2 linked regions of the Homo sapiens genome follow. The protein of the gene in region 1 interacts with the protein of each later gene in a pairwise test. Each region holds a gene or a part of one and is shown on either strand. Other genes may lie near its edges. The genes, in order: DEXI and TBCD.

The links.
Region 2: the proteins of DEXI (region 1) and TBCD interact in a two-hybrid assay, tested with the Homo sapiens proteins (one large-scale study listed by IntAct).

Annotation. Positions count from the first base shown.
Region 1 is NC_000016.10:10,939,419-10,943,943, reverse strand, and holds the start of DEXI (dexamethasone-induced protein), read left to right. Parts: upstream 1-1,475; 5' UTR 1,476-1,938; coding exon 1,939-2,226; 3' UTR 2,227-2,375; exon of another isoform or gene 2,376-2,758; intron 2,759-4,525.
Region 2 is NC_000017.11:82,761,919-82,765,724, reverse strand, and holds part of TBCD (tubulin-specific chaperone D), read right to left. Parts: intron 1,761-3,806; coding exon 1,663-1,760; intron 1-1,662.

The sequences.
Region 1 (4,525 bases):
GTGTGTGTGTGTGTGTGTGTGTGTGTGTGTGTGTGTGTGTGTGTGTGTGTGTTGGAAAAGGCTGGATGCAACAATGCACCAAACTGAACATTTTGTACTTCCAGAGGATTCCTCTGGTCTTCAGCCAGAATCCATGCTATTTCCCAAAGTACCACGTTAAAATGAAAAAGGAAACACCCAACTTTCTGCATGAGCCAGAATATATCTAACTTCTACCCTGGATTAGAAGTGGTAAGTTCAGTGTGGGCAAGACTTCTCAAGTTTACCATCCATTCATTCATTCAGTCACTTCTACATATCAACCTTATTAAAGGTCCACTGTGTCCCATTAACTCTGCTCAAGAAAGAACTGGGCCAGAGGCCAATGTTCTCCCCAGTGCCTAGCACAAGGTTTGGCACATAGCAGGTGTTTAACAAATATTGGTAGAGTGCATGAATGAGTAAAGGTTTGTTTCACCTTCAGCAGTTGGAGAAATGGATAAGAGTGGAGAGTTAATGGTTTGTCCTGTAATTCATATAGAGTGGGGCAAGACAAAGTCATGGAGCAAAAAAGAACAGGATCTGGCCTCCAAAGAAACACACCCAGGCTCAGAAATGTAGGATCCCTGGGCTCGTATTTTTCATCTGTAAAAAGTACGCACATACATACTACACTGCCTTGTATACCTCCGATTAAGCGATGCATGTAAAATACTCAGCTCAGTGTGGCCTGAGATTTAAAGGTTTCTTGAACTGCTTTGGAAGGCTCTTTGGGCGAGATCATGTTTTCCTGAAAGACATGCAACGGTTACCCAAGAGCAGGGGAACCAGTGGGTGGGAGAGACTCACTTTTCTGTGTACTTCACGGTTGTTTGAATGTTTAGCCATGTGTATTATTGCTTTTAAACATGATTCACAAAGTAAAAAGAAACAAAAAGCATCCTTATGGTTGAAGATCTGAACTACCTCGGAATCTCTTTATTCAGGTGTTCCTTAACTCTAGGATGCAGGTTCCGTAGTGGGCGGACCTTCCAGCAACCAGAGTTTGGAGAAGCGAAGGGGACACTGGTGGATCTCCACCATGAAAATTGGCGCTTTGGGAATGTCCAAAATTTCCAGGGCAACCGTCCGTCGCCCCTCCCCGACCCCGCCTCCTTTTAAAGGAGAAACGGAGTCCCAAAGAGGCATGCAGCAAGGTGCAGCGGTAGCCCGGGTTTCCTTCGGCTTTTGCGGCCTTAGCATTATGTCTAGGTTTGAACTGTGTTCAGTCTCTTTTACCTCCCCCTATTCGATACGCAGAGCGAATTCGATTTGAGATCTGAGGGCAGACCCGAACCAGGAAAGCAACTCAGACGCTAGGGCCCCGAGGGGCGGAGCGAAGCGGTACCCGCCCCCTGGCGGCCGGAGCCAATCAGCGCGGGCGTTGAGCCGGCCAATTAGCGCGTGCAGGGGGCGGCCTGCCAATGAGCTCGGGGCCCCTCGGGAGGCGGAGCTCCGAGCGCCACCGGGAGGGCTACGCGGCGGCCGCAGCCATGGGTGCTGGGCCTGCGGGGGCGCGGGGGGTGCGCGAGGACCTGCGGGGCGGGGCGGGAGAGAAGGCTGCCGGGACCGGCCCTAGACACTGAGCCGCGGTGGGATCCCCACCGGCTCTGCGAGGCCCTGCGAGCGCCAGGGAGGCGCCACGAGGGAGCCGGGCAGCCGCGGGCCACTTCAGGGGGGCCCGCCTCGCCGCCCGGGCGGTCGAGAGATCCTTGGGGGCACATCTCGGGGTGCGGTGACCCGCCCGGCGCATTTCGGGGGTCGGGGCGCAATTGCCAGGGGACATCTGGAGCCCGGCCCTGCTTCTGTCGGGCTCCAGGGTACCCCTGGATGGCTGCGCTGTGCCCTCGCCGGCCGCCCGGGCGCCGCAGCGGCTGAGTTCGCCGGGATCGCCGGGCCGCCGCCCTTGCCACCCGCTGCATGCTCGGCGCCCGGGTCGCGGCCCACCTGGACGCACTGGGCCCCCTGGTCCCCTACGTGCCGCCGCCGCTGCTGCCCTCTATGTTCTACGTGGGCCTGTTCTTCGTCAATGTGCTGATCCTGTACTACGCCTTCCTCATGGAGTACATCGTCCTCAACGTGGGCCTCGTCTTCCTGCCCGAGGACATGGACCAGGCGCTCGTGGACCTCGGCGTGCTCTCCGACCCCGGCTCGGGCCTTTACGATGCTGACTCGGAGCTCGACGTCTTTGATGCGTACTTGGAGTAGGGTCTCGACTGCTGTTCCCCTCTTCCCTACACGATCCGCAACCCATGCCCTGGACCAGCCGCCCAGATCATGCCGCCGCAGCTGGTTGGGGGCACCATCTGGACGGGGATGGTTCCCCAGGAGGAGACCCTCCCCTGCCTCCGAGGCCTGTAAGTGCCCTCTCTGAACAGGATGAGGGCGGGTTGGGGCGCTAGCAAGGGAGAGGGAGGAATTCCCAGGCCGGATACACACCCCTCCCTCAGGCTTCTCCTCCGTTCACCTCCTCCAGGTCTAACTGGATGCCAGGAATGGCCAGACTCCTCTTAAGCCCTTCGTTTGGGCTGGAAAGCTTCCTCCAGCAAAGGGGACAGCTGGTGAAAAGGAAGGAGACCCCGAGACTAAGTTACATTTGGGGTAGCTCTGTGACTTACCCCCAAAGCTTATGGAAAAAGCCTTCGCTCCCAAATCCATTTGAGGCAGAGCTGTCAGCTCCTCCTCCAGTCCTCATCCTGGCTTGATGATGACCTTGGCTTTTGGGGGATTCTCGCTTGTCCTAGAAGGATAAAGATTTAGGGGTGTCAGAAGACACAGGGAGCCAGGCACGAATCACCTTTGTACTGTGGCCCTTGGGGTAGCTGGGTGGGGATTAAGTGCAGGGGCTCTAGGCCAAAGCTGTGAGAGGAGAAATCGCAAGCAAAGAAGCCCGTACTTCCTTTTGGCCTTGGGTTTGCTGCTATTTTGGAGTCAGGTTTCAGGGTGCCCCAGCTCATCAGTTCTGCAGCTCAGAACTGCAGGGGCTGCCAGTTTTGTAGGCTCCCTTCACAGAACAGGCAGGCAGGGAGCTGGTGCCAGGGCTCGCTTTGTCTGCAGTGTTTGCAAGCGCTCAGGGGGCTCTTAGGTCCTCGGGAGAAGGCACCACAGGGTCATTGCACTGAGATGGTCAAGTCCTGTCTTTGGGGCTGTGACGAGGGAGCTTTGCATCCAGCATCCAGCCCACTGTGTATGTGAGAGGTAGGGAAATGAAGGTCCAGGAAGGAGTAAGACTTGGTCATAGTCACAAGGAAGAGAGGCAGCTAGACTCAATTAGAGAGAACACGTGAGCCAGACAAGCTGTCAGGCAGCTGCCAGGTCTGGTGAGGGTCACAGGGCAGGCAGGAACGCCTTGGCTCAGCCCCTGAGACTGGACAGTACTGGAGTGTCACTGGGCACAGGGTCTAAGTGGCAATGAAGAGGGGATGCTGAGATATGGTGGGCAAGGGCTCCTTTAGGAAAATGGACACTAATGCCATTCACCGCAAGCAGGCTGAGTCCACCCCTCTCCTGCATTACCTGGCTTTGCCAAGACAACCACAGGCAGAGGGTGTCTTAGTTCAGTCTGCTATAACAGAACACCATAGGCTGGGGGACTTAAACATTTATCTCTTACTGTTCTTATAAGGGCATTAATCCCACCCATGAAGGCTCTGCCTTCGTGACCTAATCACCTCCCTAAGGCCGCACCCCGCAATACCATCATTTGGGATCAGAGTTTCAACATATGAAGTTTGAGGAGACACAAACATTGAGTCTGTTGCAGATGGTGGTACAGGGTGGGGTAGGACCTACTGACAGCATAGCTGGCGGCAGAGGGCTCTCCTAATGGGTTCACAGTGAGATTTCTTTGAAGAAAAAGCTTCAGTTGAGCTCAGTAACATCTTAGCGAGAACCAAGTGCCAGGGGGAGTGTGTGCCAGGTGCTCTGCACACCTCCCCAGCCTGCCTGCCTGCCTGCCATCCATCCGTCCGTTCTTTTACAGAATGAATGCTTGTTGGTTCAGTACAGTGCCTGGTGATTGAACACAGTGAACAAGACAGACCAAGCCTTGGCCCTTTGGCACTTGGTGAGGAAGACTAGTAGGAACCCAAACAAGAGAATCAGATTTTTTCGGAACTATGAAGGCAGGCAAGAAGGACATGAGCTTCCCTGTTGTGTTCACTGCCATGTCCTCAACACTTAAAACTGTGCCTGGCCTCTAGTAGACGGTCTCTGTAGGTGTAGACATGGAGTGAAACAGAAGTGAAACGGTAGGATAGAGATGGTGGGCTGCTTTAGCTGAGGGGTCAGAGAAAGCCTCTCTAAGGAGATGATGCTTTTGAGCTGAGCCTTAATTTGATAGAAGGATCTGGAGAAAAGCAGTCCAGGCTGAGGGAATCAGTGGTGCCAAGACCTTCAGGTGAGAGAGAGTTGGTTTTTCCGCAACCAAAAGGAGGCCCATGTGGCTGGAGAACAGCCCCAGGAAAGGTCAGTGAGGTGGGTGGGAGCCATACCATGGAGGACCTGG
Region 2 (3,806 bases), on another chromosome or scaffold:
ATAAGTGCCTACAAACCGCAAGGGCCCAAATTCATTAACACTTCCCTGAAGCTCAGTGATACCACGCCTTCCGGAGAAATCCTAACCTCAAACAGAGGAGCTACAGAGGCCTGCGTGTCCTTGGCAGCTCACCCGCAGTGTCCTCTCGCTGGCCAAGGACTTTCCCGCCAGACAACAGAAATGCGCCTCGCCACTACGAACCCCAAGCCCCACCCTGAGACGGCTGTGAGTACTTCCATAGTCAAAACTGCCAACAGTGAGCCTCTGGGCCAGCACACAGACACCCGCAAGCTTGTAAGAAAAGCAGACTATGAGCACAGACACCCGCAAGCTTGTAAGAAAAGCAGACTATGAGCAGACACCCGCAAGCTTGTAAGAAAAGCAGACTATGAGCACAGACACCCGCAAGCTTGTAAGAAAAGCAGACTATGAGCACAGACACCCGCAAGCTTGTAAGAAAAGCAGACTATGAGCACAGACACCCGCAAGCTTGTAAGAAAAGCAGACTATGAGCACAGACACCCGCAAGCTTGTAAGAAAAGCAGACTATGAGCAGACACCCGCAAGCTTGTAAGAAAAGCAGACTATGAGCACAGACACCCGCAAGCTTGTAAGAAAAGCAGACTATGAGCAGACACCCGCAAGCTTGTAAGAAAAGCAGACTATGAGCAGACACCCGCAAGCTTGTAAGAAAAGCAGACTATGAGCACAGACACCCGCAAGCTTGTAAGAAAAGCAGACTATGAGCACAGACACCCGCAAGCTTGTAAGAAAAGCAGACTATGAGCACAGACACCCGCAAGCTTGTAAGAAAAGCAGACTATGAGCACAGACACCCGCAAGCTTGTAAGAAAAGCAGACTATGAGCACAGACACCCGCAAGCTTGTAAGAAAAGCAGACTATGAGCACAGACACCCGCAAGCTTGTAAGAAAAGCAGACTATGAGCACAGACACCCGCAAGCTTGTAAGAAAAGCAGACTATGAGACCCCCGCCTAGACCTACTTGCTCAAAATCTATAGCACAGCAAAATTCCCAGGAAATTCATCTGCACATTAAAGTGTGAGAAGCACTTCCATTTCCACAGAGTCTCGCTCTGTCACTCAGGCTGGAGTGCAACAGCATGATCTCGGCTCACTGCAACCTCTGCCTCTCAGGTTCAAGCCATTCTCCCGCCTCAGCCTCCCAAGCAGCTGGGATTACAGTCATGTGCCACCAAGCCCAGCTAATTTTTGTATTTTTAGTAGAGACGGGGTTTCACCATGTTGGCCAGGCTCATCTCGAACTCCTGACCACAGGTGATCCACCTGCCTCAGCCTCCCAAAGTGCTGGGATTACAGGCATGAGCCACCGCACCCGGCCTGCTTTCTCCTTGTAAGAAGTTTTTCTGATTTAGTCTCATCTCCACCCCATTCCCTTCCTAGCTACACAGTGCTTCAATCTATTCAAATGCAAGATGCTGAATATCCTGACACTGTTTCAGCCAAAGAGCCCACATCACTAAATTCTGATCCCCAACATACAGTAAAAAGGGACAGAATTAAACCCACAACTTGTGTCTAAGAACTATCTTTCTTGAGAAATAACATTTTGGAGGGTAACCTCTGGACCAAGTATATTACAAAAGTATCTGTCAACTCTGAAGTGCTATGGAAATGTTACCTTGGTGATGATGTAAAGAAATTTAAAAGCCAGATGTACAAGGGAAGCTGGAGATGTCTGATCTTGCACTATGTCCAACAACAAGTTCATCATCCATTCTAGGGAAAAACATAGGAAACATTTACTGTAAAAGTGAACATCAACATGACATTGAGGCCGGCCAGGTGTGGTGGCTCATGCCTGTTTTCCCAGCACTTTGGGAGACCAAGGTGGGAGGATCATTTGAAGCCAGAATTTCAAGGCGGCAATGAGCTATGATCCTACTATTGCACTCCAGCCTGGGCAACAGAGCAAAACCCGTCTCTTTTTTTTCTTTTTTTTTGAGACAGAGTCTTGCTCTGTCCCCCAGGCTGGAGTGCAGTGGCGTGATCTCAGCTCACTGCAACCTCCACCTCCCGGGTTCAGGCTATTCTCCTCCCTCAGATTCCCAAGTAGCTGGAATTACAGGCACGCGTCACCACGCCTGGCTAATTTTTGTATTTTTAGTAGAGACGGGGTTTCACCATGTTGGCCAGGCTGGTCTCGAACTCCTGACCTCAGGTGATCCACCCACCTCGGCCTCCCAAAGTGATGGGATTACAGGTGTGAGCCCACCGCACCTGGCCCAAAACCCTGTCTCTTAAAAAACAAAAACAAACAAAAAGACATAGCTAGGTTAAACGTAAGCAAAAGGAAAAAGATATTCCAACCAATCACAAATCATAAAAGAGCTGGAGTGGCTCTGTTAATATCAGACAAAGTAAATGTCAGAACAAGCATTACCATCAGAGATAAACAGAATGTTTCATGATAATAAAAGGATCAATTCATCATGAAGACTTAACAATTCTGTAAGTATACACACCAACCTACAGAGCTTCAAAATAAGCACAGAAGAAGCTGAGAGAAATGAAAGGAGACACGGTTGAAAACTTCGACACTCCTGTTTCAGGAACTGATAGAACAAGTAAGAGAAAATCGCTGAAACCTAAACAGCACTATCACCCACCTTACTTACGTGACATTTAGAGAACAATCTACCCAACAACAGAACAGACATTTTTCTCAAGTGCACGCGGAATGTTCAACAAAACAGACCATACGCTGGGCTGCAAGTCTTCATACATGGAAAACAACTGCAACTGGCATCCGGGAAACGCAGAGAAGGACACAACGAGATACACTCCCTGAAATCAGAGAGACTGGCAACGCTGAGTGCTGAAGAGAACCCAGAGCAGCTGGAATCCTCATACCTTGTTGGTAGAAATGGTCAACAGTACAATCTTCATGGCATCAGTATGGCAGGTGATGAGTCACACACTTTTTTTTTTTTTGGAGACAGAGTCTCACTCTGTGACCCAGGCTGGAGTGCAGTGGTGTCATCTCAGCTTACTGCAACCTCTGCCTCCCACATTCAAGTAATTCTCGTGCCTCAGCCTCCTGAGTAGCTGGGACTACAGGCACCTGCCACCACACCCGGCTAATTTTTTGTATTTTAGTAGAGATGGGGTTTTACCATGTTGCCCAGGCTGGTCTTGAGCTCCTGAGCTCAGGCAATCCACCTGCCTCAGTCTCCCAAAGTGCTAGAATTACAGGTAGGAGCCACCGCGCCTGGCCAAGTCATACACTTTCTACAAGTAAGACACTTTCTGCTACTCAGCAATTCCACACATGCGTATTTTCCCAAGAGAAAATAAAACCTCTGTCTACCTAAAAACTTGTACATAAACATTTTCACAGTAGCATTACTTTTTTTTTTTTTTTTTTTGAGACGGAGTCTCGCTCTATCACCCAGGCTGGAGTGCAGTGGCAAGATCTCGGCTCACTGCAACCTCCACCTCCCGGGTTCAAGCAATTTTCCTGCCTCAGCCTCCCAAGTAGCTGGGACTACATGCGCACACCGCCACACTGGGCTAATTTTTTGTATTTTTAGTAGAGATGGGGTTTCACCGTGTTAGCCAGGATAGTCTCAATCTCCTGACCTCATGATCTGCCCACCTCAGCCTCCCAAAAAGTAGCATTATTAATAACAGCCAAAAACCGGAAACAACTCAAATGTCCATCAACAGATAAAAGAAGAAACAACCCCAGCACTTTGGAAGGCTGAGGCGGGCGGATCACGAGGTCAGGAGATCGAGACCATCCTGGTTAACAAGGTGAAACCC